3 separate regions of the Homo sapiens genome follow, and regions 1 and 3 are each reported to be linked to region 2. Evidence: microRNA targets listed by miRTarBase, many of them from high-throughput screens and not tested one by one. Region 2 holds a microRNA gene; each other region holds the end of a gene's coding sequence.
The links. The annotated mature microRNA hsa-miR-34a-5p reads UGGCAGUGUCUUAGCUGGUUGU and lies in region 2 at 5,198-5,219, shown strand. An mRNA with a match to its seed (bases 2 to 7 or 8) in the 3' UTR can be bound and repressed. Matches are read on the target gene's strand: a 7mer-m8 pairs with bases 2 to 8, a 7mer-A1 pairs with bases 2 to 7 and ends in A, and an 8mer does both.

Region 1: the mRNA of POLR3E is a reported target of hsa-miR-34a-5p. The part of its 3' UTR that is shown has no 7-base or 8-base seed match.
Region 3: the mRNA of YIPF2 is a reported target of hsa-miR-34a-5p. The part of its 3' UTR that is shown has no 7-base or 8-base seed match.

What each region holds. Positions count from the first base shown.
Region 1 is chr16:22,331,257-22,341,380 of GRCh38, forward strand. POLR3E (RNA polymerase III subunit E) reads left to right here. Exons shown (of 21, transcript NM_018119.4): 20 at 804-929; 21 at 2,388-3,840. The coding sequence ends at 2,444. It overlaps LOC124903664 (a long non-coding RNA gene), which reads right to left. Exons shown (of 2, transcript XR_007065026.1): 2 at 2,654-7,226. Among named protein-coding and RNA genes, the nearest start is that of CDR2, 38 kb to the right of the region's middle.
Region 2 is chr1:9,146,830-9,156,953 of GRCh38, reverse strand. MIR34A (microRNA 34a) reads left to right here and starts at 5,177; the gene lies at 5,177-5,286. It overlaps MIR34AHG (MIR34A host gene), which reads left to right. Exons shown (of 2, transcript NR_132742.1): 2 at 5,119-8,943. RefSeq lists a silencer at 5,132-5,368.
Region 3 is chr19:10,915,921-10,926,044 of GRCh38, forward strand. YIPF2 (Yip1 domain family member 2) reads right to left here. Exons shown (of 10, transcript NM_001321439.2): 5 at 9,766-9,853; 6 at 8,156-8,272; 7 at 7,913-8,079; 8 at 7,575-7,757; 9 at 7,352-7,487; 10 at 6,273-7,254. The coding sequence ends at 7,371. It overlaps CARM1 (coactivator associated arginine methyltransferase 1), which reads left to right. Exons shown (of 16, transcript NM_199141.2): 7 at 487-577; 8 at 776-857; 9 at 3,675-3,760; 10 at 3,957-4,046; 11 at 4,516-4,653; 12 at 4,739-4,828; 13 at 4,914-5,026; 14 at 5,130-5,207; 15 at 5,455-5,523; 16 at 5,695-7,155. The coding sequence ends at 5,837. Among named protein-coding and RNA genes, the nearest start is that of YIPF2, 7.7 kb to the right of the region's middle. RefSeq lists a silencer at 5,112-5,291.

The sequences.
Region 1 (10,124 bases), not on the chromosome of region 2:
GCGTGAGCCTCTGCGCCCGGCATGAAGCATCTTTAAGAGAGTTTCCATTGTTTAAGTTTTCAGAGTTGTTGAAATTCCATAACATTCTCCTTCTTGGTCTTTTAAATTTGGCCTGTATTCTTTCCTTTATGCCAAACTGCAGAATTTTTCATTATTCTGTATATCAGTCAGTGCCATTTCAGCTGTGCCCTGGTGCGGGTCATTATTGTACTAGACAATTGAGTTCTTATAAAATCCTGTGAGTTGTTACTTTTTTTTGTTTTTTTCAGAATTCTTATGACAGATATTAGACATACTGAATCCAATCTTTTCCATTTTTATTTTGGGGTGTAACGTATTTTACGGCATCCTGTTTCATGGATGCAGTGGCATGTTTGTGCATTAAGACTTCACACCAATTTTGACACCCTCTTCTCATCTCCGTGCAGCTTAGATTGTCGCTTCACCTGCTTGCTAAGTCCGATGCACGCCTGCATTTTACCATGCAGAAATATGTTCAAGCCACTCATCCTCTCATGTCTCTTCACCAGTTCTTTTGTTATGCTGGCATATACCTTTGTTTTTATTTATATTCAAGTTTCCAGACATAGCATTAATGCCTTTACTTTTGTGTTTTTATTTCTGTACACTGTCTTGCTGGGTCTCTAGAGATGACTTGGCTCATCTTTAACCAGAGGTGCTGCGTGAGGGTTTTTATCAGAGACTGCAACACAAAGTCAGGTGCATGGCTTGGGTGTCTTGTTTGGGGATGTTTCTCTTTTTAGATCACTGTTTCCCATCATAACGTGTTTTTGCTACTAAAGCATCGACAGGTTTTGCTTGAAATTTTTTCCAAAAATTACCGGGTACGCCGAAACATGATCCAGTCTCGGTTGACTCAAGAGTGTGGAGAAGATCTCAGTAAACAGGAGGTGGATAAAGTACTAAAGGTACATCCATTTTGTGCATAACAAACAATATCAAAGGCTCTGGAAGGGGCTGACAGTGTGTAGAAGGGACTCTAGTGTCTTTGTGTATATGAAATCAGGCTTCCTTGGGACCACTCCCCAGTCAGTCTTGTCTTGAGCAACTGTTAATGATTGATTGATTGGCATTGGTTGGGGAAGGGGGTATGTGCCAGAGGACTGACCCCTTCAAACAATATAGTCACAGTGGTGTCCAAGGGAAAGAATACAGCCATGGATGCTTTGTTTCTCTTTCTGGTTGGGCCAGGCCAGTAATGCCCCTTTCATCCCTCTTCTCTGCTTGTCACTAGAGACAGAAACTAAAAACCATGGCTTCAGGCTGCTAAGAGCCTAAAACAATAGAACAACAAAAAAATATGGTAGGTTGGATGAGCTTGGCAGTGGGTAGGCGTCTTCTAAAATGATAGGGCCTAGTTGAGAATCCTCACTCTACTCTCCCTTGAATTTTGAACTATCTTCTGATTGTTGCCATAGCCACACACATGACTTTCAGTAGAATCCATTCTTAAATTTAGTTTAAAAAGGAATATGATCTGTTTACTATATGAAAGCACCTAATGTACAACCTATAATGCTTTTCTGAAGTGACTGTAGTACAAATACCAACCATATTTGCAGCAACACTGAGAGACAGAAAACTGATGACAATGTCTTGTTTTGATTAAACATCCAGAGCCATATAAGTAATACTGTTTTTTAAGCACCCTTGTTCTGGGCATGTCAGTATCTGTATTTCGTAGACCCCCTTTTTTTTTTTTTTTTTTTTTTTTGAGATGGAGTTTTGCTCTTGTTGCCCAGGCTAGAGTGCAGTAGCACAATCTCGGCTCACCGCAACCTCTACCTCCCAGTTTCAAGCAATTCTCCTGCCTCAGCCTCCTAAGTAGCTGGGATTACAGGTGTGAGCCACCATGCCTGGCCCACCCTCACTTTTAAAATGCCCCTGAGGAATGGCCAGGCGCGGTGGCTCACACCTGTAATCCCAGCGCTTTGGGAGGCTGAGGTGGGTGGGTCACTTGAGGTCAGGAGTTTGAGACCAGCCTGACCAACATGGAGAAACCCCATCTCTACTAAAAATACAAAATTAGCCAGGCGTAGTGGTACATGCCTGTAATCCCAGCTACTTGGGAGGCTGAGGCAGGAGAATCGCTTGAACCTGGGAGGCAGAGGCTGCAGTGAGCCAAGATCATGCCGTTGCACTCCAGCCTGGGTAACAAGAGCAAAACTCTGTTTCAAAAAAAAAAAAAAACACTACCCCTGAGGAAAGGGTGGCTGGTAGTAGCCATGGTGGTATGGTTAGGCAGTTTTTGATTTCCCATTTGTATTCTATTCACTAATCATAAATCGAGTGTTGACATTGTGGACAGAATGTAATTAGCTCCTTTTCCTGCAAAAATCTGTGCTTACCCTGTTTCTCTCTCATAGGACTGCTGTGTAAGCTATGGTGGCATGTGGTACCTTAAAGGGACAGTACAGTCTTGACAATAGTAGCAAACTACTAACCCAGCAAATCTAAGCCCAAGGAAGAAGGGCGGAACCAGAAGTAGGGCCTCGACTTGCTTCAGACGACACAGAGCAAGAGGAACTGACCATCTCATGACCTGTGGCATTGCACGGTGCAGTGGACAGAAGGGATTATCCTCAGCCAGTCGCAGGGTCAGCTTAAGTTAGTTAGATCACTCCCAGAAGAGACCAGCTGGGACCTTCTTTGCAGTACAATTTGAAATTCCTGATGTATTTTGCTTATTATTTGGTTTCATTCTCATAATAAAGAGAGTGTATACTGACATGGGCAGGATGATAAAAATCATGGTTTAATATTTTCTTTTGTAAACTTAATGCCAACAAGGTCTAAGTTATGTTTACAACATGAAGAAAACCTCAAAGTTCTTAATTTTTAAAATGCCTAGAAGACAATATTTAGTCTTGGATTATCTATCTGCTAAGACCTCCACCAATTTCATTAAACCAAATTGAATTATTCTATTCTTGGGATTCTGTGGCCACTTCACCTTTGACAACAACCTACTTTATGTAGCAGTCTCAACTGTTTACATGAACCATAGCAAAAAAATCAGAATCAAATCCATCTCCTTTTAATGTTTGCAGAAAGATGCAAACAAAACCAGGTAAGTATGGAACAATGTGTAAGTGAGGTTATCACACTTTGATGTAAAAATTTCTATTTTGTGTATTTTTAAAATAAATGCAAACACTAAACTAGCATCATGGTGCTATCTTCAAATGGTTACAGGAAGGCGATCTTGTTGGGCTCAGCGTTACGTGTATCTAGAGGGAACGGAGCTAATGGAGGAAGACAGAGCAGCACTGTCCACTAGAAAGAGGCGAGTCACGTACATAATTTTGAAAGTTTCTAGCAACCACATTAGTTTAAAAAGGTCATGTTAGCATATTATTTAGCTCAAAATATCTAAAACATCAACATAAGGTAAAAGTCTTCAAAATCTGGCATTTTACACTTTCCTCAACACTCAGTTTGGACTAGCCACATCATAAGTGCTCCGATGCCACATGGGGCTATTTGCGACAGTATTGGATAGCACAGCCCTAGAAACTGATGGAAAAAATAAGAGTAAGCTAGGTTGGATGACATGTGAATTTTGGTATCTAGATAAGGCTTTCGCCATCTTTTTTGTACAACACAGTCACTAATTGTCTGAAGGTTTAAATGACGGTCTATGCTATTTCCCCACTCCCCCCAAAATAAAACATCTAATATTTTAGCTATAGAATCACTAAGGCATTGATCAAGGATGTACTTTGCCAAATAAGTATTTGGTAACATCACTTAACAAGTTGATCGTGTATTGATTCTGTTAACATATGTGAACCTGAAAAGTAAAGTTACCAAAAGCGATTTGGAATATGTCTCAGCTTTTCCATCCTACTTCCTTCTCACTTTGAAAGGGGAAATGCTCATGTGGGACGGCACAGAATGTTAGTCCCATCACCTTGCAGAACTTAATTGGCTCAGTGGAGAAGTCAGAGCCTTAAATACTTTACATTGATAAAAAGAACTGGTTAAAACACCAAACTCAAATAGCAAGAAAAAGAAACAAGGAATATAGGAGGGAACTATTGTTTTAAAAAAAATTGAGGGAACTTGGGATGTCAGAATAGGACTTTCCAGCACTCATCCCCCTGCAGAAACATGAATTTAAACAACTGTCCACACACAAAAATACCTTCACAAGAGTTAAGGAACCTCTAGAGATTACAGCACCTTGGTGTACCACAGAAATAAGATGTACTAAAGAGGATAGGAGGGACAATTTTACATTACCTAGCTTACCCCCTCCCCAGCCCCAGGCAGCACAGGGTGGAGAGAGAGAGAGAGAGAGAGAGAGAGAGACCCTCTACTTGGAGGAAGGAGAACATTGGACCCCAAAATCATGCCAGCCCCAGACTCCAGGCCTGCGCCAGGAACACAGGCTCTAAGCATACCCACTGCCAGGCCTGCACCCATGAGCTCACACTCTAGCAGGCACCCCCTCCCCACCCTGGTCCAGCCCCATCTGAGTAAACCCCAGCACTGGGCTGGCCCTCACAGACTAGGCTCCAATATCCCCTGCAGCCCCAGGTTCTAGGCCAGCCCCCATGGCCCCAGGATCCAAGCGAGCCCTCAGAGACTAATCTCCAGGCCAGTATCTATATACCCCTGGCTCCAGGCTGATCTATATGCCCCCATGCCAGCACCCACAATCCCAGGCTCCAGTACAATACCCCTGGACCCAAGGTCCATGTGTGCCTCAGCACCAGGCTCCAGTGGACCCAGGTTCCAGGCACATACCTCAGTAAGCCTCAATGCCAGGCATGCCCTGGCGGACTGAGGCTCCAGAACAGTCCCTATGGACCCAGAACCTAGGCCCACCCCTGCAGGTTTTTAGGCTTCAGGTCAGCTCCCTGGATGCAGGCTCCAGGCCTGCCCTTGTGGACTCAGGCTCTGGTTGTACCCCTGCAGACCCAATCAACTGGCCCACTCCACTGGACCTACGTTCCAGGATTAATCCTATGCATGCAAGCACCAGGCTCATCCATCTGCTGACCTAGGTACTAGGTCAGCCTGCTCAAGGACTCCAGCAACAAGCCTGCCCACAGAAGACCACACCAGACAACTTGCCCAGAATCTCTGAATGGGCTCACTGGTAAACGGCTGTTCCAGGCAAAGTCAGACTGCAAAGATTAGAATCAGTCCTTACCACTTCATCCAATGTACAGACATCAACATATGACCACAAGGATCAAGAACAATCAGGGAGACATGCTATCACCAAAGTAACAAAATAAAGCACCAGAAATCTACCCTAAAGAAATGGAGATTTATGAACTGCCTGACAACTCAAAATAGTTTTAAGGAAGTTCAGCAAACTTCAAGAAAATACACAGATATAACTCAACAAAATAAAGAAAACCAAATCAAGAAACCTAATAGATTGAAGTTATATATTTTTTACAAACCATTCTGAAGCTGAAAAATAATATGAATGAAATGAAAAATGGAATAGTGAGCATCAACAGAATTGATCAAGCAGAGAATCTATGAACTCAAAGACAGATTATTTGAAAATATAGCCAGAAGAACAAAAAGAATGAAAAGGAATGAAGAAAGCTTAAGGGATTTATAGGACAGCATCAAAAGAGCAAATATTTGAGTTATAGAAGTTCAGTAAGGAGAAGAAAGAAATAAATCACAAAATAGTAGCAGAAAACCTTCCAGATCTGGAGAAAGATATAAATATCCAGGTATAAGAGTATCAAAAGTCTCCAATCAGATTCAGTATGAACAAAACTATACCACGACACATTATAATGAAATTGTCAAAAATCAAAAGACAAAGGGGAAGATCCTAAAAGCAGCTAGAGAAAAGAAGCAGATCACATATAAGGGAGTTCCAATAAGGCTAGCACTTCTCAGCAGAAACCTTACAGGCCAGGAGAGAGTAGGATGATATATTCAGAGTGCTAAAGGAGAACAAATTGCCAACCATGAATACTTTATCCAGCAAAACTTCAGAAATGGAGAAAAAGACATTCCCAGACAGACAAAAGCTGAAGCATTTCATCATCACCAGCTCTGTGTTTACAAAAAAATGTGAAAGGGAGTTCAAGCTGGTAGAAAAGGATGTTAATTAGTAACATGAAAACATATGAAAGTATAAACCTGGTAAAAGCATAATGTCAAACTCAAGAATACTCTAATACTGTAATGGTGGTATATATATTGCTTATCTTTAGTATAAAGGTTAAAAGATAAAACTATTAATAGCTAATTTGTTAAGGGATACAAAATATAAAACTTGTAAATTGTGACCTCAAAAACAAAATGTGGGAGAGAGAATAAAGTATAGTTTTTAATGCAATCAAAGTTATCTGCTTAAAATAGTCTGCTATCACTGTGTTTTACATAAGCTTCATGATAACCACAAAGCAAAAACCTATAGCAGATATGCAAAAGATAAAAAGGAATCAAAGCATACCTCTAAAGAAAATAAATCACAAAGGAAGACAGTAAGAGAGAAACAAAGGATCTACAAAACAACCAGAAAACAACAAAATTGCAGTAGTAACTCCTTACCTACCAACAGGGATAGGTAAGGAGTTACTACTGTGAATGTAAATGGATTAAATTCTCCAATCCATTTACTGTGAATGTAAATGGTTTAACTCTTCCATAATCCAAAAACGGAGTGGCTGGATTAAAAAAAAAAAAAAGATCTAACTATATGCTGCCAAAAAGTGTCTCATTTAACCTGTAAGGGACACATAGAGACTGAAAGTGAAGGAATGGAAAATGGCATTTCATGCAAATAGAAACCAAAAGAGAACAAGAGAGCTATACTTACATTAGATAAAACAAACTTTAAGTCAAAACTGTAAAATGAGACAAGGTCACAGTATAATGATAAAGGGGTCACTTAACAACTGTAAATATTCACTCAATATCTGAGCACCTAAATATAGAAAGCAAATATGAATAGCTCTGAATGGAGAGACAGACTGTAATACAATAATAGTAGGGGATTTCAATATCCCACTTTCAGTAATGGACAGATCAAGGCCAAAAAAAAAAAAAAAAATCAATAAGAAAGCATCAGATTTTACACATTAAACAAAATGGACCTACCATATACAGGAGATTCCATCCAACAGCAGAATACACATTCTTCTCGAGCATACATGGAATATTCTCCAGGACAGATCATATATTAGGGCGGTATCTTTTCTGACCACAATGGTATGAAACTAGAAATCAGTAACAGGAGGAATTTCAGAAAATTTACAAATACGTGGAAATTAAACATGCTCCTGAACAACAAATAGGCCAATGAAAAAAACTAAAAGGAAAAATTTTAAAAATATCTTGAGACAAAAATGGACACAAAACATGAAATACAACAAAAGCAGCTCTGAGACAGAAGTTTATAGCAATCCCCACCCACATCAGAAAGAAAAGACTTCAGATAAACAACCCAATGTTACACCTCAAGGCACCAGGAAAATAAAAAGAACTAGGCCCAGTTAATAAAAGGAAATAGGCCAGGTGAGGTGGCTCACACCTGTAATCCCAGCACTTTGGGAGGCCAAGGTGGGCAGATCACCTGAGGTCAGGGGTTTGAGACTAGCCTGACCAACATGGAAAAACCCCATCTCTACTAAAAATGCAAAAAAATTAGCCATGTATGGTGACACGCTCCTATAGTCCCAGCTACTCGGGAGGCTGAGGCAGAAGAATCGCTTGAACCTGGGAGACGGAGGTTGCAGTGAGATGAGATTACGCTACTGCACTCCAGCCTGGGTAACAGAGCAAGACTCCATCTCAAAAATACATACATATATACATAAATGGAAATAATAAAGACCAGAGCAAGACTACGTCTCAAAAATAAATAAAAGAAAGGAAATAGTAAAGACCAGAGCTGAAAAAAATGAAAAGATCAACAAAATTCAGTTGGTTTCTTGAAAAGATAAAATTGACAAACTTCTAGCTAAGAAAAAATAGAGAAGACTCTCATAGAATTAGAAATGGAAAAAGATAATCCCAGCACTTTGGGAGGCCAAGGCAGGTGGATCACCTGAGGTCAGGAGTTTGAGATCAGCCTGGTCAATATGGTGAACCCCATCTCTACTAAAAAATACAAAAATTTGCTGGGCATGGTGGCAGGCACCTGTAATCCCAGCTACTTGGGAGGCTGAGGTAGGAGAATCACTTGAGCCTGGGAAGGGAATGTTGTAGTGAGCTGAGATCCCACCACTGCACTCCAGCTTGGGCGATAAGAGTGAGACCTTGTAAGAAAGAAAGAAAGAAAGGAAAGAAGGGAGAGGGAGAAGGGAAGACATTACAACTGATTCCATAGAAATACAAAGGATCAGGCCAGGCACGGTGGCTCATGCCTGTAATCCCAGCACTTTGGGAGGCCAAGGTGGGCGGATCACTTGAGGTCAGGAGTTTGAGACCACCCTGGTCAAAGTGGTGAAACCCTGTCTCTACTAAAAATACAAAAAATTAGCCAGGCATGCTAGCAGGTTCCTGTAATCCCAGCTACTTGGGAGGCTGAGGCAGGAGAATCACTTGAACCCGGGAGGCAGAAGTTGCAGTGAGCCAAGACCATGCCATTGCACTCTAGCCTAGGCAACATGAGCAAAACTCCATCTCGAAAAAAAAAAATTAGCTGGGTGTGGTGGTACATGCCTGTAATCTCAGCTACTTGGGAGGCTTAGGTGGGAGAATTGCTGGAACCCGTGAGATGGAAGTTGCAGTGAGCCAAGATCACGCCACTACACACTCCAACCTGGGAGACAGAGCAAGACTCTCTGTCTCAAAAAAAAAAAAAAAAAAAAAAAAAAGAGAAAAGAAAAGAAATACAAAGGATCCTAAGAGACTACCATAAAAAATTACCAGCAAACTGGATAACCTACAAGAAATGGATGAGTTCCTAGACACATACAGCCTACCAAGACTGAATCACAAAGACACCGAAAATCTGACCAATGAGTAAGAAGGTTGAATCAATAATTTTAAAAAGTCTGCCATCAAAGAAAAGCCCAGGACCTGGTGGCATCATTGCCGAATTCAACTAAACATTTATGGAAAACTACTACCTATCTTTCTGAAACTTCCAAAAATTTGATGAAGAGGAATACTTTCAAACTAATTTTACAAGGCCAGCACTACCCTGATATCAAATCCAGACAAGGACACTATAAGAAAAGAAAATTAGGCCGAGCACAGTGGCTCATGCCTGTAATCCCAACACTGCGAGGCCAAGATGGGCAGATCACCTGAGGTCAGGAGTTTGAGAACATCCTGGCCAAAATGGTGAAACCCCGTCTCTACTAAAAATTAACCGAGAGTGGTGGCGCATGCCTGTAATACCAGCTACTCAGGAAGCTGAGGCCGGAGAATCGCTAGAACCTGGGTGGCGGAGGTTGCAGTGAGCCAAGATCGCGCCACTGCACTCCAGCCTGGGCGACAGAGCGAGACTCCACCTAAAAATATAAAGAAAGAAAGAAAGAAAGAAAATAAAAGCAAATTAGACCAATATCCTTATATCCTTGATGAACACAGCTGCAAAAACCTCACCAGAACTAGCAAACCAAATTCAGCACATTAAAAGGCTCATTCACCAGGATCAAGTGGGATTTATCCCAGTCTGGGCAATATAGCAAAACCCCATCTCTGCAAAAAAAAAAAAAAAAAAAAATTTTTTTTTTTTAATTAGCCAGGTGTGGTGCTGTGTGCCTATTGTCCCAGCTGCTTGGAAAGCTGAGGCAGGAGGACTGCTTGAGCCCAGGAGTTTGAGACTGCAGTGAGCTATGACCACCACTGCACTCCAGCCTGAGTGACAGAGTGAGACCCTGTCTCCAAAACAAAGTTGGATTTATCCCTGGGATGCAAGGATGGTTCAATGGTTCAACATATGCAAATCAATAATTGTGATACACCACATTAACAGAATGAAGGACAAAAACCATATAATCTTCTCAATAGATGCAGAAAAAGCATCTGAAAATTAACAACCATTCATGATTAAAAAATCAACAAACTAAGTATAGAAGGAATGCCCACTCTTACCTCTTCCATTCAACAAAACACTGGAAGTCCTAACTATAGCAATTGCACAGGAAAAATAAAAGGCTGGT
Region 2 (10,124 bases):
TGCTCCACGGACATTAGATTCTCCAAGGCCCAGGACACCTGTCTGTCCCCCCGCCATGACTGGTGAACACCCAGCATGGTGTCCACAGGTCAGAGGCTCTCGGTGGCTGTGTGTTGGATGTGGAGGGGACCATCATGCTTCTGGGAGATGTGCTGTGGGGCTGAGGAGGTTTCCTGAGTGAATTTTCACATCCCAGTGATGGTGAGAGCTCCTGTGTTTCTGGGAATCATACCATCCGAGAGCATCATTACCAGAATCAGCATTTTCTTTTCTTCTTCTTCTTCTTTTTTTTTTTTTTTTTTTGAGACAGAGTCTTCCTCTGTTACCCAGTCTGGAGTGCAGTGACACCATCTCGGCTCACTGTAACCTCCGCCTTATGGGTTCAAACAATCCTCCCGCCTCAGCCTCCCAAGTAGTTGGGATTACAGGCACCTGCCACCATGCCCGGCTAGTTTTTGTGTTTTTAGTAGAGACAGGAGTTTCACCATGTTGCCCAGGTTGGTCTCAAACTCCTGACCTGAAGTGGTCCACCCACCTCAGCTTCCCAAAGCAGTGGGATATACCGGTGTGAGCCACCGCACCCGGCCAGAATCAACGTTTTCTTTTGTGCTGAAGGAGCTCACAGCCCCTCTGGAGTTCTATTTCCTGCTAAAGATGGCTTCTGATTTTCTCGAATTCCTCCTGGTTTGCTGGACCAGCAGGGCTGGCTGGGCAGCAAGACACATCAGGCCTGGGGCCTTATACATCTTATGTTTAATGCAGCAGAAGCTGGGCCTGATACTTAGAGTGAAGGCCTTTCTGTAGAAAGGAACATCATTTAAATCTCTGTCCTCAGGTTGTGACTCCAGGGAAGTCTGACATGGTTAAAGATTGCTGACTTGGTACGTTTTGTATTTTGTGGAACACAATCAATTTTCATGTATTGATTAATTATTCCCCATTGCCTAAAATCCTGGCCTCCTCTCTCTTGATGGAGAAGGCTGTCCCCAAAGTCCAGGCCTAGAATCTTTGACTGGAAAGACTGTCCTGAGAGTCCAGGCCTCCTCTCTCTGACTGGAAAGACTGTCCTGAGAGTCCAGGCCTCCTCTCTCTGACTGGAAAGCCTGTCCTCAGAGTCCAGACCTCCTCTCTCTGACTGGAAAGACTGTCCTGAGAGTCCAGGCCTCCTCTCTCTGACTGGAAAGCCTGTCCTCAGAGTCCAGACCTCCTCTCTCTGACTGGAAAGATTGTCCTGAGAGTCCAGGCCTCCTCTCTCTGACTGGAAAGACTGTCCTCAGAGTCCAGGCCTCCTCTCTCTGACTGGAAAGACTGTCCTCAGAGTCCAGGCCTCTTCCCTCTGACTGGAAAGATTGCCCTCAGAGTCCAGGCCTCTTCTCTCTGACTGGAAAGATTGTCCTCAGAGTCCAGGCCTCCTCTCTCTGACTGGAAAGACTGTCCTCAGAGTCCAGGCCTCTTCTCTCTGACTGGAAAGACTGCCCTCAGAGTCCAGGCCTCTTCTCTCTGACTGAAAAGATTGTCCTCAGAGTCCAGGACTCCTCCCTCTGACTGGAAAGATTGCCCTCAGAGTCCAGGCCTCTTCTCTCTGACTGAAAAGACTGTCCTCAGAGTCCAGGCCTCTTCTTTCTGACTGGAAAGACTGTCCTGAGAGTCCAGGCCTCCTCTCTCTGACTGGAAAGCCTGTCCTCAGAGTCCAGACCTCCTCTCTCTGACTGGAAAGATTGTCCTGAGAGTCCAGGCCTCCTCTCTCTGACTGGAAAGACTGTCCTCAGGGTCCAGGCCTCCTCTCTGTGACTGGAAAGACTGTCCTCAGAGTCCAGGCCTCCTCTCTCTGACTAGAGACTGTCCTCAGAGTTCAGGCCTCTTCTCTCTGATTGGAAAGATTGCCCTCAGAGTCCAGGCCTCTTCTCTCTGACTGGAAAGATTGTCCTCAGCGTCCAGGCCTCTTCTCTCTGACTGGAAAGATTGTCCTCAGAGTCCAGGCCTCCTCTCTCTGACTGGAAAGGCTGTCCCCAAGTGATTCTCCCCCCTTGGGCTCCCAAAGTGTTGGGATTACGCATGTGAGCCACCATCCAATTTTTTATTTTTATTTTTAGAGACAGGGTCTTGCTCTGTCACCCAGGCTAGAGCGCAGTGGCTCACTGCAGCCTCAATTCCTGGGCTCAAGTGATCCTCCCACCCTGGCCTCTTGAGTAGCTGGGACTACAGGCATGCACTACCACCACCACCTCCTCTGTCTAACCAGAAAAAATTGTCCCTGAAGTCCAGGCCTTCTCTCTCTGACTGGAAAGATTGTCCACAGAGTTCAGACCTCCTCTCTCTAACTAGAAAGATTGTCCCTAAAGTCAGAGCCTCCTCTTTCTGACTAGGAGGATTTTCTTCTCCATCTGAGGGTCCTGACTCAGGAGGAAGAGGAAGGGCCCCCTCCTGTCCTTCTGGTGCCTGGGGCAGCAGCCTTCATGGGTAGATGCCTTCACCCAGGTGGCTGTCTAGATTCAGAAAATGGAATTCTGTTTGGAAGTCTGGGACAGGGGCTGCTGAGCAGTGGAAAGTGCGTGTGGTTTGGCTCAGATGTCCCCGGGATCTTACTCTCTCTCTCTTCTGAACCATCTTTTCCTCTGGGACCGTTTCCGAGCCTGAGGATCGGGCTGGCTGGAAGACTTGGCAGTTGCACTTCACTGTGTTAGTGTTTGCCTGACACCCCTGCCATGCCCACCCCTGAAAACACACGGCCCTCCCTCTGGTGGCAGTGCTGGGGCTGAAGCCAGGAGCCACCATGAGGCCAGATTCCTGCCTCTTGCACCCCATCTCTGGATGGGCCAGCCCATCCCACACGCTTCTGCTGTGCTTACAAAGTTCAAGTGTGCTGTGGTCACTGTTTCCATGTGGCTATCTGTTTTCAGGATTCTGGGGTCCCCTGCCCCGTCCAGTCTTGGCTGGGAGTTGAGGGAGGGAGGAAGCTTTGAGTTTTTGCTTGTCTCTGCGCTGACCTGGGGACACAGCAACTGCAGGATGTACCTTTGGCATCATCCCAGAGCTGCCAAGTCTGAACTTCTAGGTTTGAACCTGGGAATCTGCATTTTACCAAAAGCTCCCCAGCCGATGCTTACACAGTGAAGCCGAGACCTGCCGCTCTAGCTGATGAGCATGCCCTGCTGGAATTTACCTTTGGGTTAAAATCTGACATATTAGGAGCTTTTTTTTTTTTTTTAAGACAGAGTCTCGCTCTGTCACCCAGGCTGGAGTGCACTGGTGTGATCTGCAACCTCTGCCTCCCAGGTTCAAGCAACTCTCCTGCCTCAGCCTCCCAGGTACCTGGAACTACAGGCACATGCCACCATGCCTAGCTAATTTTTGTATTTTTTTTTTTTTTTTGGTAGTAGAGATGGCGTTTCACCATGTTGACCAGGCTGATCTCGAACTCCTGATCTCAAGTGATCCACCCACCTCAGCCTCCCAAAGTACTGGGATTACAGGTGTGAGCCACCACGCCCGGCCTAAGAGCATTTTTCCCACACTAAAAGATAACACAGTCCAGCTGGCTTGCTTTTTAACCAGAGCATTACAGGGTCACCTGTTTGGAGGAGGAGGACTGAGGTCAGAGCAGGCTCCTGTCAACTCCAACGGGACATTTCACAGTGGCCACAACAGGCTGACCTCTGTGTCCTGTGTCCTGCTGACTGTGTGTGGAGGCCTCAGAGGGGCTCTTTCCCCCTTGCACAGAGAGAGACAGCACTGGCTCATGAGCCTGCTTTTTTCTGCACTACCTTACCTGGAACTCAAGTTTCTGGGACTTCCCATGCTGGGGTAGAGGTGACTTTGATCCTCCTGAAAACAGTCCTTCATGCCCCCACACCCACATGGAAGAGGAACTGTTCCGTGGTGGTCCGTATCCAAAGTCACTAGATCTTGGCCTGGCATAGTGGTTCATGCCTATAACCCCAGTATTTTGGGAGGCCGAGGCGGAAGGATCACTTGAGCCCAGGAGTTTGAGACCATCCTGGGCAACATGGCAAGAACCCATCTCTATAAAAACAACAACAACAAAACAACAAGAAGTCAGTAGATCTTAAAGCACTAGATCTTAAACCCTGTGATGGGCAATTTCCTTGTCAATTTAGCGAGGCTGTGATACCCATGATTCAACCAAACGCTTGCCTGGGTGCTACTGTGAGGTGCGTTGTACATGTGGTCAGCACTGATGATCACTGGCTGTAAGTCAAAGGTTCTCCTCTGCGAGGTGGGTGGGCCTCATGCAATCGGTTGAAAGGCCTCAAGAGCAGAACCGAGGTTTCCCTGAAGAAGAAGAAATCCTGCCTGGGGACTGCAGTGTCAGCTCCTCCGGGGAGCTTCCGGCCTGCTGGCCTGCCCTCTGGATTTCAGACTTGCCTAGCCAGCCCCCACAATCACGTAAGCCGATTCCTTGAAATAAACTTAATCTATATCTCCTTCTGGTTCTGATTCTCTGGCAGAACTCTGATCCTCTCCCTAAACGGTGCCCGGGACGGGGGAGGAGTTGGCGCTACTTCATTGCTTCCCTTTCACGCAGACATGCTGACTTTTCAACCACTGTCCTTTTCGAATTTTTTCTCTTCCAGGGAAGTGCTGACTCTTTTTCTCCTTGTCAATTAGTCCTTTTGGAATCTGTTACTGGTCTCAGCCTTCTCCTCCATCCTCTCTCTTTCATTATTTTTATTTTCATTTTGTAGAGACAGTTGCTGAAGGTGGTGGTCTGGCTATGTTAACCAGGCTGGTTTTGAACTTCTCGCCTCAAGTGATCCTCCTGTCTTGGCCTCCAAAATTGCTGGGATTACAGGTGTGAGCCATCACCCAATTTTTATTTTTAGAGACGGGGTCTCACCCTGTCACCCAGACTGGCGCAATCACAGCTCCCTGCAGCCTCAACCCCTGGGCTCAAGCGATCCTCCTGCCCTGGCCTCTCCAGTAGCTAGGACTACAGGCACGCATGTCACCATGCCTGGCTAATTTTTAAAATTTTTTTGTAGAGATGGAGTCTTGCTAGTTGCCTGGGCTGGTCTTGAACTCCTGGCCTGAAGCGATCCTCCCACCTCGGCCTCCTGCATCCTTTCTTTCCTCCCCACATTTCCTTCTTATCAACAGGTGCTGGGGAGAGGCAGGACAGGCCTGTCCCCCGAGTCCCCTCCGGATGCCGTGGACCGGCCAGCTGTGAGTGTTTCTTTGGCAGTGTCTTAGCTGGTTGTTGTGAGCAATAGTAAGGAAGCAATCAGCAAGTATACTGCCCTAGAAGTGCTGCACGTTGTGGGGCCCAAGAGGGAAGATGAAGCGAGAGATGCCCAGACCAGTGGGAGACGCCAGGACTTCGGAAGCTCTTCTGCGCCACGGTGGGTGGTGAGGGCGGCTGGGAAAGTGAGCTCCAGGGCCCCAGGAGCAGCCTGCTCGTGGGTGCGGAAGGAAAAAGGCACAGGGGCTTGGTGTGGGCGGCTTTTGGCTGGGAGAAGTTTGCACGTAGGGAGAATAGTAGCCAGTGTTTGCAGAGCACTTACTATGCAGGAAGGCCTGTCCTAAGTATTGTAAGTGTATTACATCATGTACAAGTGTCTGTGATTAACCCCGTCTTGCAGAGAAGGAAACAAAAGTACAAACAGAAAATGTAACTAAGCATGCAATTAATAAAAAGGGACCAGGTTTTGAACGCGAGCAATCTGGCTCAAGAATCTGCGCCCAACCACCGGCTCCTGTTCTTAGAGATGAACGTGGAGTCCTGGAGACTGCTCAACATTGTGACTTGACTGTGAGCGTACGCGCTCCCTGTCCCCAGGAGACAGATTTCCAGTGCAATCATAGAAAGTGCCTGTGTGGGCTTCGGGAGATGTGTCTGCCTTGGGGAGAATTTTCCTTTTCAGCTAGAGCCAGGCCCAGGATGTTGACGTCAGTGAGACGCTGGTGACGTTCTCTGCTCCAGTGGCTGATGAGAAAAGTTCCTCCAAGCCAGCTCAGTTGAGAAGAATTAAGTTCTCTGGGTCCCACTGGCTTCACCTACAGATGCCAACTTTGAGGCCAGTGAACTGTGAGGCCAGCTGGGCTGATTGCCATGGCAACAGGAATTGGACCAAAGTCACCGGAGGATGGAGAGGGAAGACACAGTGGTGGCTTCCCCAGGTCTTGGACCACAAGGCACAGCCGTGGCCTCCAGGAACCCTGAGATAACCCGTTAGTGGGTCCTGCACTCCAACAGAGCTCATGCAATCAGCCTCTGGTCCTCACCCTCCTCCCATTGGTGTCGTTGTGCTCTCTAACATTGACATTGAGCAGTGAGTGCTCCAGATCTTGTTCCACTGATTTTTTCCACTGTTCTCCAGTCTAGCACTTTCTGAAATTCATCCAAGCCTAAGAGGTGACGCCAAACGTAAGTGTCTTACACCTCGGACCCCATGGACTAAGACAAGCCTCTGGGGTCCATGTGGCACCAAGGATGGGGCCTTCTAGTACCTTTCACACAGGCCAGGGACAGCACCTGCTGCGACCCCCACCCCCAGCCTCTGCTGCTTCTCCCGTTGCCCTTCCAGCCACTGCCCTGGGCACCTCCCCTGCTCCCGCCTCCCTGCCTGGGCCCATCTTTCTTTGCACCTCACCAATTGCGGGGCTTCCTAGTGCTGGAGGGGAAGGGAGCCTGCTTCCATTCTCACCACTCTGAAAGAAGACCCTGCAGAGAGGTTTTCTGGAATTTGGAGCCTAACCTTGGCCTTGACACAGTCCAGATGAGAAGGCCGTCCCCCAGTTAAGCCAGCCCTCCCTCCCTCTCAATGCTGGAGAGGAAACCAGGCAGCTGGTTGCTTCAGCAAACCCCCTCCCTATGGGAATTGTCCTTTTCTTCCTCAAATAGACTGGAGTGCAGAGGACTTGCTTCAGAGAGAGCCCCTTTGTAACGCACATTGCACGGGCCGTGCCCCATGCCCACTCTGCCACAAACTCCCCTCAGCTGCCCAGCCCCGTGGAGCCAGGCGTGGGCTGAAGTGGGGCCAATGAAATGCCTGGAATGCCAGCCGCAGTGACAGGCCAGCACTCAGATGCCTCTCGGGAGTTCTGACCGAAGCAGCACTGAGGACTGCTTCAGAGCAGAAGTCTACGCCATTTTCCCCAGTTCTAGGCAGAAGTAAAGAATGTCTCTACCTTCTCCCAACCAGCAATTGATTCAGAGTCCTGAGCTTTTAAATTAAAGGGACCCCTCTGTTGCTTTATGCAGTAGCCAGCTTATTCATTTGAGTTCAGGTGAAATCATTTTCAAGTAACCTCTTCCTATCCAGCTTTACTTTTAGTTATGCTGACATAAAAACAATAAAAATTGTCCTCCTCAGAGTTCACCTGTAAAAGTTCCTGGATAATTAGTAAGGAAACAGAAAGAGCAGATAGTTGTTGCTTCAGATAAAAGTGATGTCTGGGTTGGGCACGGTGGCGCATGCCTGTAATCCCAGCACTTGGGGAGGCCCAGGTGGATGGATCCCTTGAGCTCAGGAGTTTCAGACCAGCCTGGGCAACATCTCTACAAAAAATACAAAAATTAGCCAGGCATAGTGGCAGGACTGTAGTCCCAGCTACTCAGGAGGCTGAGGTCAGGGGATGGCTTGAGCCCAGGAGGCACAGATTGAAGTGAGCTGAGATTGCGCCACTGTATTCCAGCCTAGGTGACAGAGCCAGACCCTGTCTCAAATTAAAAAAAACTCTTTGTGGTCATTTAATTTACTTCTGCATTCTTTTTTTTTTTTTTTTGAAATGGGCAGTGGTACCATCTCAGCTCACTGCAACCTCTGCCTTGGGGGTTCAAGTGATTCTCCTGCCTCAGCCTCCCGAGTAGCTGGGATTACAGGCACCCGCCACCACGCCCAGCTAATTTTTGTATTTTTAGTAGAGACGGGGCTTTGCCATGTTGACCAGGCTGGACTCAAACTCCTGACCTCAGGTGATCCGCCCACCTCGGCCTCCCAAAGCACTGGGATTACAGGAATGAGCCACTGCACTCGGCCTACTTCTGCATTCCTTAGAGTACATCCTAGCTAGGATATATTCACTTGTCTTTAGAGCTAACAGCAGAAGAAAGGTACCTAGATGCTTATCTAGCTCTTTATCTTTCTAGAAATTCTAGAAGATGAGAGGGGCAGTGGTGGCTCCAAGGGAGTGATTTTAGGATGGACTGGGACAGAGAGGGGCTGCTTACACATACTCACACAGAGGCCATTAATTTAGGGAGTTCAAGGTCCAGGAGGTTGACGGCATCTAGGCCTGTGGCAGAGTGCACTCCTGCTTTGGGGAATGTATGGGCAGCTTCTTGCCTGTAGTTGGAGGGTTAGAGAGAGGGATCAATAATTTCATGGTTGGACTTGAGTTTGGAGCGAGTGGAGTTAGATACAAATTCTATGTTTTTGGAGAAAGTATTTGATCTTCTTGGCTGTGAGGCAAAGCGAGGTTTAAAAATATTTTTCACTTAAAAATATATATATATGCATGTATATTTAATACTGTCTATGGATTGTGCCAATATCTATTTCATGGTTTTGATATTGTGTAGTTATACAAGGAGTTACCACTGAACGAAACTGGGGGAAGGGTACACAGAATCTCTGTACTTTTTTTGTTGTTGTTGCAATTTCCTGTAAATCTATGATTATTTTAAAATAAAAAAGTTAAAGCATACGTATTTACATTTGATTAAATGCAGTGTGATATCCTGGGTTGGATTTTGGAACAAAACAAGGCATGAGTGAAAAAACTGGTAAAATCCAAAAAAGCCTTTAGTTAAAAGTAATACCAGTGTTAATTTCTTAGTTTTGACAAATGTGCCATGGCTGTGTAAGATGCAAATGTTAGAGGAAACTGGGCGAAGAATTTGAGGGAACTCTCTGTACTATTCTTTGCAGCTTTTCTGTAAATCTACAATTATTCCAAAATAAAAGTCTATTAAAAATGTAAGTATACACACACACATTTATATTTGAACACATCTAGGCAGCCAATGCCCTTAAAGAAGGCACTTTCTTCAAACGATGCCTCTGGGATGGGTGAATAATTAAGGGCCCCTTTGACAACTGTGCTGCGGGTTATGTCACTCCCTAATTTGGCTGTCTGGGAAGAGGGAACCCTAGAGAGCTTTTAAAACCAAATAGAGTCCGGGCGCAGTGGCTCACGCCTGTAATCCCAGCACTTTGGGAGGCCGAGGTGGGCAGATCACCTGAGGTCAGGAGTTCGAGACCAGCCTGGCCAACATGGTGAAACCCCGTCTTACTAAAAATACAAAAATTAGCTGGGCGTGGTGGTGGGCGCCTGTAATCCCAGTTACTTGGGAGGCTGAGGCAGGAGAATCGTTTGAACCCAGGAGGCGGAGGTTGCAGTGACCCGAGATCACACCATTGCACTCCAGCCTGGGCAACAAGAGCGAAACTCCGTCTCAAAAACAAAAAACAAACAAAAAACCAAAAAAAAAAAAAAAAAATAGGAACCCTGATCACAAGTCAGAGAGAGTTAATTGTAATACAACCCCATTTTCCAGGCTAGAAACTGAGGCACAGTTGGGAACTGATGCAATTAGATTGTAATTTCCTGGAATATTTAAAACCAAATTATTTTCTGTTTTCCAAGCATGTGCTTGTAAACATACAAAATACAAATTGTAGTAGCTGTGATACATTAAAAAAAAAAAAACGGAAATGACCTTTGGTACTCTACTTAGCTCTCATCAGGATCCGTGGTTAAAATTGGTGGGTGGGGTGAGGATCCAGGCAAAATGCAAGTATTAATTCAGCACTTACCCTGGGCCTTGCACTTGGCAGGATGCTTCCAGGGATGCTCAGGACTAGTGGGCATCAGGGGTTTTTGCTGCCCAGCTTCCATTCCTCTGCTAGCAGCACTACCAGGTACAGTCCAGGGGCCCCCCACCAAGATGCCTGCCCTTCCCTGGTCAAGATGACCCCAACTTCCTGATGGAATGTGAGTCAAGAGCTTAGCGTGCAGAGGAAACATGCTCACAGCTCACTGGCCCCATTGAGAGCTTGCTGTATGTATGTATGTTCGAGATAGAGTTTCGCTGGAGTGCAGTGGCGTGATCTCGGCTCACTGCAACCTCTGCCTCCCAGATTCAAGCGATTCTCATGCCT
Region 3 (10,124 bases), not on the chromosome of region 2:
GTGGATTTGGCTTCCCCCACCTGGCTCTTGGCCTCAACTGAGGTCCCCAGCGGCGTTGGGGTAGCCCGGGGCCCACCACCCTCCCTCTGTCCAGAGCAACTTTGCTATGCTTTCCCGGCTGCACACATGCACAGACGGCAGGGCCTGAGAGGCAGCGCCTGGCCACATCCCGGGCACTGCCTGCTTCCCCGTGAGTCTTTGGCAGGTCCCTCACACCTGCCAGGTCTAGTAATAGGACATAAAGATGAGCCACCAGCCTCCCAGTCTCAGGTGGAATTCGTGAGCTGGTGCAGGTCAGGTACCCGTGGTGGTGATGAAACACTGATCAGAATAGGCGCTCGGTGCCACTGTCACAGGAGTGCAGGAACGAATGGATGACAGGCTGGGAGCACCCAGGGTTGGGGGTCTTGGGGTCCTTTGGAAGCTCTGCCAGGCAGTGTGGGATGTGTCACCTGACGCCAGCACCCCTCCCTGCCCCACTCCCAGGAAACATGTTTCCTACCATTGGTGACGTCCACCTTGCACCCTTCACGGATGAACAGCTCTACATGGAGCAGTTCACCAAGGCCAACTTCTGGTGAGTGTGCCCTGGGTGTCCCGCCTGGGCCCCACAGCCTGCCTTCTCAGGGACAGCCCCAGCTCCCCAGAGAGCCTGCACTCCTCTTTTTCTGAAAGACTTGGGCTAGATGAGGGCTGACTGGGAGAGAAGGCAGGGCTACCCCACCTGCCTCTTCTGCAGCCCTGACCTTGCTGTGGGGGTGGGGCCTGTCCACAGGTACCAGCCATCTTTCCATGGAGTGGACCTGTCGGCCCTCCGAGGTGCCGCGGTGGATGAGTATTTCCGGCAGCCTGTGGTGGTGAGTAGGGCCTCCAGGGTACTGCTGCAGTGATCACTTGCCATTGCTGTGCAGCTGTGCAGCCCTCAGGAAGCTACAGCCCCTCTCTGAGCCCTCTCCTCTGCCCTGCACAGCGCTCTCACAGAGATTTGGGCCAAAAGTGTCAATGCATGTAGACACTTAGCACACAGCACACATGCAATACATGTGGAACATTATTAGGTGAGGCTAAGGCAGAGGGGGCATTTAGGCTCAGGAGTTCAAGATCAGCCTGGGCAACACAGAGACGCCATCGCTATTTTTAAAATTAAAATAAATAAATAATAAAAATAAAAAAGAACCATTACTAGATGAATTTATCCTTGGTGAGCTGATGTGATTTATTGATTGATTTTACTTGAGATTTTTGATACATAGATCCATGATTTAAAAATCAAAAGGAAAAAAAAGCTAGGTGCAGTGGGTCACACCTGTAATCCCAGCACTTTGGGAGGCCAAGGCGGGCAGATCACGAGGTTAGGAGATTGAGACCAACACGGTGAAACCCCATCTCTACTAAAAATACAAAAAATTAGCCAGACGTGGTGGCGGGCGCCTGTAGTCCCAGCTACTCAGGAGGCTGAGGCAGGAGAATGGCGTGAACCCGGGAGGCAGAGCTTGCAGTGAGCCGAGATCGCACCACTGCACTCCAGCCTGGGCGACAGAGTGAGACTCCGTCTCAAAAAAAAAGAAAAAAAGGTTCCATTTTATTCTGTTTTCCCCCTGCTCTTGATGTTTTTCATTCGTTTTGGGAGACTCTTGGACTATCTTGGATACTATCTCTTTAAACACTACGTCTGCCCCATTCTTTCTCCTTCTGGGATTCCAATTACGTGTACAGTGAACCTTTTCACCATATCTCAGATGATTGTTATACTCTTTTCTGTCTTTTCCATCCATTTTTTTCTCTCATTTTCTTTTTCTTTTTTTTTTTTTTTTTGAGACGGAGTCTTGCTCTGTTGCCCAGGCTGGAGTGCTGTGGCATGATGTCAGCTCACTGCAACCTCCACTTTCCGGGCTCAAGCGATTCTCAGACTCCTGAGTAGCTGGGAGTACAGGCGCTTGCCACCACTCCCAGCTAGTTTTTTGTAATTTTAGTAGAGATGGGGTTTCGCCATGTTGGCCAGGCTGGTCTGAAACTCCTGACCTTAGGTGATCCGCCTGCCTCGGCCTCCCAAAGTGCTGGGATTACAGGCGTGAGCCACCATGCCCAGCGTGTTCAGTCTTTTGTGATATCACTGGGGAGTGAATGAGTGAAAAAAGCAGGAAATATTTTGGTGGTATTATGCAAATTTTGTATTATGATGAGGGTGCCTTGGAAGAGGCCACAGTTTGAGAAGGTGCTGCTTTATGGTACAGCCTTTGGTAATGTTAATGCAAGTCCAGTGGTTAGCCTCATTACCAATATGCTGCTGAACCACCCGTTAGCTTTTATTGTTTTTTGAAACAGGATCTCACTCTGTTCCCCAGGCTGGAGTACAGTGGCTCAATCACTTCATGGCTTACTTCAGCCTCGATCTCCCAGACGCAAGTGATCCTCCTGCCTCAGCTTCCCAAGTAGCTGGAACTATAGGAGTGTGCCACCATGCCCGGCTAATTTATTTTTTTGTAGATATGGGGCCTCACTGTGTTACTCAGGCTGGTCTTGAACTCCTGACCTCAGGTGATCCGTCCGCCTCGGCCTCCCAAAGTGCTGGGATTATAGGCATAAGCCACTGCACCTGGCGTTGAGCCTCTTATTAGCGGCTTTCTGCTTGGTGTCTTAGCCTCTGATGCCCTGCCTCGCTCAAAGCTCAGGAGTTGGCCAATTTCACAAGCGCACTGAGTGTGCACCGCCCACCTTGCCCTCCTGCACTTATTTCCCTTTGCTTTGACATCACAGCCCCTTGAATCCGAGCTGCCTTGGTAACCCTGAGCTCCCATTTTGCTTTCCCCACCCAAGGAAGCTGCTGAAAGGTCGAGGTGGCCGTTTTCTGCCCTCCCCATGGGGAAAAGGTAGAGGCCAGAAAGGGCTCCCTCCAGAAAGGGCATTTCCCTCCTTTCCAGGAGCTTGATCCCCAAAATCCTGGCCGCTCTGGTTGGTCACCAGTGCTTCCAACAACTGGTTTATTCTTTTCTTTGGATTTTATTCGGTTTACATAGTTCATGGCAGGTGTGTTAGTCGGATATAAACATTGCTGGGAGTGGACAGCAGCACTAGTGTTGTTGTTGTTTTTAAGAGACAGGGTCTCCCTGTGTTTCCCAGGCTTGATTCACACTCTCGGGCTTAAGCGATCCTCCTGCCTCAGCCTCCTGAGTAGCTGGAGTTACAGGCATACAATTCCACACCCAGCTAGCACCTAGTTCTTTAACTTGCTTTTTTGGTTAACTTGCTTAATGATTTAGCTTGGAGATCTTTCCTCATCTGTTCATAAAGAGCCTCTTCATTCTTTCTCACGTCCGCATGGTCTTTGATGGGAGAGCCATCACTGGTTTAATTAGATGGTTTCCAGTGTGTCGCTACCACGGACAATCTAATTATACATGTAAGTTTGTTGATGTGTTCATGTATCTGGAGGTTAAACTCCTGTAGTGCCAAATCTTTTATGTGGATAAACACTTGTCATTTGGAGAGCTGTCACCTGATTGCCCTCGGTGGCGTTGTGCCGGTCCCCTCCTCACGGCGTGTCTGGGAAGAGCAAGCTCGTTTTAGCTGCACAGCCTAGAAGCCGTGGGCAGACCTGGGGGAAGGGGCAGGGCTCTCCCCTCCCATGCTGGCCCTGGCGTCAGATGCCACGTCACACCTGTGGTCTCTCCCAGGACACATTTGACATCCGGATCCTGATGGCCAAGTCTGTCAAGTACACGGTGAACTTCTTAGAAGCCAAAGAAGGAGATTTGCACAGGTACTGGCACCCACACTCCATCCTCCCAGGCCTGGCTCAGGCCGAAGGTCAGGGCCACCCCTGGCTCCCGCCGGCATCCTGCCGTCCCAGGGCAGATGGTGGGCGGGGGCCCCAGGCCTCTGCACCTGGCACCCCCTCTTCTCTCTCGGCAGCGCCTGTCTGGCTTCCCCAGCAGCCACTGCCCTTTGCCTTCCAGGATAGAAATCCCATTCAAATTCCACATGCTGCATTCAGGGCTGGTCCACGGCCTGGCTTTCTGGTTTGACGTTGCTTTCATCGGCTCCATGTGAGTGCCGCAGAGCAGCCCATGCTGCCTCCTCCCCACTCCCAGGGCTTCCTGCAGCTGCAACCTGGCTGGGGGGGTGGAACATGGCTCCAGGTTCCACCATCCCTTCCAATGGGAGTGAGAGCCTGTCTCGGAGCAAGAGACTGTTGTGGGTGGGGTGTGTGTGTGTGTGTGTGTATGTGTGTGTGTGTCCTGTGTTCCCAGTGTCTGTCCCTCATGGGTCTGTGTCTGTCTCTTGGCACATGTCAGGGTGAGTAGGGATCTCGTGGTTGCGGGCCCCTCGTGTGTACATGTATGCCTGCTCATGTTTGTGTCTGGGACTGCCTGGGGGCCAGCCTGTCTCTGCTCCAGGGTCCCAGGGGTCCCTGGCAGAGGGGGCAGGTGCTTGGGGAGGACTCAAGGCATACAAGGTGGTGGCTCCAGTGGTGGCGCCGGCCCAGTCAAGTATGTGCCTGTCCCTGCTCCACAGAATGACCGTGTGGCTGTCCACAGCCCCGACAGAGCCCCTGACCCACTGGTACCAGGTGCGGTGCCTGTTCCAGTCACCACTGTTCGCCAAGGCAGGGGACACGCTCTCAGGGACATGTCTGCTTATTGCCAACAAAAGGTGCGACTGCTCCCTGGGGCTGGTGGTGGTGGGCAGGGGTCCATCTGCCCAGCAGCTCATGCCACGGCCTGCACCCTGTCCGCAGACAGAGCTACGACATCAGTATTGTGGCCCAGGTGGACCAGACCGGCTCCAAGTCCAGTAACCTCCTGGATCTGAAAAACCCCTTCTTTAGGTAGGAGGGGCCCCTTGCCTGCACAGGGGGGCGCCCCGGCCCTGCAACCCCCTTGCCCCTGCCCATGGCTCTGTCTCTGCCATAGATACACGGGCACAACGCCCTCACCCCCACCCGGCTCCCACTACACATCTCCCTCGGAAAACATGTGGAACACGGGCAGCACCTACAACCTCAGCAGCGGGATGGCCGTGGCAGGTGAGCAGGGCCCACCCCAATGCCCAGCCAACCCGGGAGGCCGCCCTCGCCGCAGGCCTGGCCCCTCTGCCTCCAGCCCTGACGTCTCCCTCTCTGGACACAGGGATGCCGACCGCCTATGACTTGAGCAGTGTTATTGCCAGTGGCTCCAGCGTGGGCCACAACAACCTGATTCCTTTAGGTGAGTGTCCCCCAGGGCCAGGGGCAGCAGGGAGCCATGCCCAGGACTGCCCAGGGGCCGGGAAGGGCCTGTGGTGACCAGGGTCGGCCTCTGCTTGGTCCTTTCACCTTTTCCTCTTCCTGGGGGCTCTCGGCCGAGGCTCTCCGTCCTCTCTGCCTCGCTCTGCAGCCTGCTGCTGTGCATGGGCTGGGTGGCTGGGGGCGGTGACGCCGTCTCCCTTCCTTCTTTCCTCCCTCTCGCTGCGCAGCCAACACGGGGATTGTCAATCACACCCACTCCCGGATGGGCTCCATAATGAGCACGGGGATTGTCCAAGGTAACGAGGGTGGCGGGGGCAGGGCCCGTGGGGGCCGAGCTAGCGTGTGAGTCGCCATCCTCTGTCCGGCCGCCCGCCTGCCCTCTTGCCTGCCCTTTCTCTCTCTCTGTGACTCTGCCTGGGGGCTGGGCGGGCCAGGGCAGCCCCTCACTGCCATTGCCTGCTCCACAGGGTCCTCCGGCGCCCAGGGCAGTGGTGGTGGCAGCACGAGTGCCCACTATGCAGTCAACAGCCAGTTCACCATGGGCGGCCCCGCCATCTCCATGGCGTCGCCCATGTCCATCCCGACCAACACCATGCACTACGGGAGCTAGGGGCCCGCCCCGCGGACTGACAGCACCAGGAAACCAAATGATGTCCCTGCCCGCCGCCCCCGCCGGGCGGCTTTCCCCCTTGTACTGGAGAAGCTCGAACACCCGGTCACAGCTCTCTTTGCTATGGGAACTGGGACACTTTTTTACACGATGTTGCCGCCGTCCCCACCCTAACCCCCACCTCCCGGCCCTGAGCGTGTGTCGCTGCCATATTTTACACAAAATCATGTTGTGGGAGCCCTCGTCCCCCCTCCTGCCCGCTCTACCCTGACCTGGGCTTGTCATCTGCTGGAACAGGCGCCATGGGGCCTGCCAGCCCTGCCTGCCAGGTCCCTTAGCACCTGTCCCCCTGCCTGTCTCCAGTGGGAAGGTAGCCTGGCCAGGCGGGGCCTCCCCTTCGACGACCAGGCCTCGGTCACAACGGACGTGACATGCTGCTTTTTTTAATTTTATTTTTTTATGAAAAGAACCAGTGTCAATCCGCAGACCCTCTGTGAAGCCAGGCCGGCCGGGCCGAGCCAGCAGCCCCTCTCCCTAGACTCAGAGGCGCCGCGGGGAGGGGTGGCCCCGCCGAGGCTTCAGGGGCCCCCTCCCCACCAAAGGGTTCACCTCACACTTGAATGTACAACCCACCCCACTGTCGGGAAGGCCTCCGTCCTCGGCCCCTGCCTCTTGCTGCTGTCCTGTCCCCGAGCCCCTGCAGGTCCCCCCCCGCCCCCCCACTCAAGAGTTAGAGCAGGTGGCTGCAGGCCTTGGGCCCGGAGGGAAGGCCACTGCCGGCCACTTGGGGCAGACACAGACACCTCAAGGATCTGTCACGGAAGGCGTCCTTTTTCCTTGTAGCTAACGTTAGGCCTGAGTAGCTCCCCTCCATCCTTGTAGACGCTCCAGTCCCTACTACTGTGACGGCATTTCCATCCCTCCCCTGCCCGGGAAGGGACCTTGCAGGGACCTCTCCCTCCAAAAAAAGAAAAAAAGAAAAAGAAAGAAAAAATAAATGAGGAAACGTGTTGCAGCACAGGCAGTTTTCTTCTCCTTCTGCTCCCCTGTTTCTCATACCCCCAAACTCAGATGCTGGAGCTCAGGCCCGCCGTGTGTGCACCCAGGCAGGAGCGGGCGCTGTCCAGGCTGGGCCGCCCCCTTGGCTCTCCCTCCTGTTCCAGGGGAGCCATAGGAGGGAAAGCAGGTGGCCCGGGGGGGATATGGGGGCCCCAGCCCTGTCCCAAAGCTCCCTGCTCGGCTGCCCCTCGCCCGCCTTTATATAAATTCTCTGAATCACCTTTGCATAGAAAATAAAAGTGTTTGCTTTGTAAGAAAAGTCTGGAAAGTAGCAGAATCATCTCAAGGTGTCAAAGGAGCCTTCAGTCATCGTCTGGGGGGCAGGACAGGCAGAGGGGTTGGTCCACTTAGGTGTTGCCTGAAAGAAAGAATTGTCTGGGAGTGGCCCCAGAACCTCTCGCCTTGACTGGGAGTGGGAGGGCAGCCCCCTTAGCCCAGCTGGGAATAGTCCTTACCTGTGGGACCCGGGCCTTCCTAGGAGGGGGCCAGGGACTGCGGCAAGGTAGGGGACAGCGCGATGTTTGAGGGCAGAGATGTGATTTGGGGTGGAGGAGCCACGTTCTCCGGAGGCAGCGACTGGAAGAAGTACAACTGCACAAGACCCCTGGGGTCAGAGGCAGGGCCAGCCCATGCCCCCCTAGCCCCTCGGCCCCACCTGTGGCCACCCCAGACCCGTACCTTACAGCCCATGGCCAGGAGGGCGTGGAGCAGCACGACCACGGACAGCAGCACTGTGGCCACCAGCCTGGTGTCCTCACGGACCACGGGCCAGAGGGTGAATACCAGCCCGGCGGCTGACAGGCCCAGGGCCAGCGCCCCAAAGAGCCACTGCAGCCAAGGCACAGGGATGAGCCACAGGACCTGGGAGCAACACGGCGGCAGGTGACCATGCCAGTCCCCCCAGCCACCACCCACTCTGCACCAGGCCACCCTCACCACCATGGGAATGAGGCGGCAGGTGACCATGCCAGTGTCCCCACACAGCCACCACCCACTCCGCGCCAGGCCACACTCACCACCATGGGGATGAAGACAAAGAGGGAGTAGCCGTAGATGCACACAGTCTCCAGGAAGGTGTAGGGCCCCATGCGCTCCTGGACACCCTTGCGCCACCGCAGGAAGCCCCACAGGGCCAGGGGCACCAGCCACGCATAGCAGTAGATGCTGATGCCTGCCACGGTCACTGGGGGGGGCAAGGTGAGCAGTCACCCCCTGTACCCCAGGGCCCTGCCAGGCATTGGGCCTGCCCGTCTGCTTACCCTTGTGGAACTGGGGGCTGTAGTGGATGGAGGGGTCCCTCCTCTGGGCCAGCACCAGCGTCAGGTTGCCAGTGACGGCCAGGACAAAGGCCAACGTGGCACAGATCCAGAAGGGGCCTGGGGGTAGGGGGCACAGTCAGGGTCCCGGGCCCTGCACTCCCAGGACAAGCAGACATGTATCCTGACTGAGCTGTGCTGAGACCCCAGCCTCTTCCTAAGCACCTTGCCTGACTCACCAGGACACCGGGGGCCTCCTGGTGGCTGAGCCCAGTGCTGGCTGTCAGTTCATCCCCCTCCCCGAAACACTCAGGACTGCACACCCTTGGCCTGTGTCTCACCTCATTGGTGCCAATTCCTCAACCCCTGTCACCTCCTCTTTGACTCTCTGACCCCTTCAGCCATGGGGAGCAGCCAGGCCCAGTTCTTGGCCCCTTCCATGTCTGCGTTCACCCATAGTATGACCTCCTTCAAGCCCAGGGCCTTATGCCTCCTCTAGAGCCCAGGGCTCTGCCCTGAGCACTGCAGGCTCCAGTTCAAGCTCCCGGGTGGGCATCTCCGGCTTCATCCACACCCTTGCCCTCTGCCCTCACTGCCAAGCTGGTCCCGTGGATACGTGGCAACTCTATCCATCCCGTTAGTCCAGGCAGAAATCCCTAGAGCCTGCCTCCGCTCCTAACCTCCCACTCCCCCCACCCCCACCTATCTAGCCACAAAGCCAGTCTCTTCTACTTCCCCAGCACGTTCCAGAATCCAGTGCCACTCTCCACATCCACAGTCCCCACCATGTGGCCGCCTCCACCCCAGCCTCCTGGCTTCCGCCCTCGCCACTCATGATGGCGAGAGGGACCCCGAAAACACTTAAAGATCCATTCTCGGCCAGATAACAGTGACTCACACCTGTAATTCCAGCACTTAGGAGGCCGAGGCGGGTGGATCACCTGAGGTCAGGAGTTTGAGACCAGCCTGGCTAACACGGTGAAACTCCGTCCCTAATAAAAATATAAAAATCAGCCGGGCATGGTGGCACGTGCCTGTAATCCCAGCCACTCAGGAGGCTGAAGCAGGAGAATCGCTTGAATGCGGGAGGGGAAGATTGCAGTGAGCTGAGATCACATCACTGCACTCCAGCCTGGGTGACAGAGTGAGACTCTGTCTCAAAAAAAAAAAAAAAAGATCTCTTCTTGCCACAGCATGGGAGGCTTGTGTGATCTGTCCCCTCGCCTGTGACCTCCCTGCAGCTCACTCGCTCCAGTGGTAATGCCGCCCTGCAGTTCATGCAAGTTCCTGCCATGAAGCTTACGTCGTTTCTGGAAGCCTCTTTTCCTAGGTCTCCCCCACCCCTCCTGTTGCCAACAAGGCTCATTCCCTCACCCTCCTCAGGGAGGCCTGCCCTGCTGCACCCTGCAGAACTGCAGGGCCACTCCTCCTGTCTGCTCTGCTGCTCTCTACCCGCCACCCTCTGCAGTCCTTCATGTCTCTGTCTCCCTGAACAGCAGGTAAGTCACACTGTCTGAGTGACTGATTTGTCCGCAGCTATACACTGGCATCTGCAACTCAGGCCACACTTGTTGAGTGATCCATCAAGGAACCAAATGCACAACCTCACTCACCATACAGATCCGGCCGATTCCGCAGATGGTGCCGCACAAAGTTGTGGCCAGGCCGGGGCAGCAGTGAGCCTTTGATCCGGTCCAGGACCTGGGGGCAAGGCCAAGGTCAAGGATGGAAGTCTGCCAGGAGCTTCTCCCTTGTCCTGAGAGGCTCCTTCCCTGCTGACCTCCACCCTTCTCTTTCCATGCCCCACCTGAAAGAACTCAGCCTTTCCCTCTCTTTTTTTTTTTTTTTTTTTTTGAGACAGAGTCTTGCTCTGTCGGCCAGGCTGGATGGAGTAGTGGCATGATCTCGGCTCACTGCAACCTCTGCCTCCCGAGCTCAAGCAATTCTCCTACCTCAGCCACCCGAGTAGCTG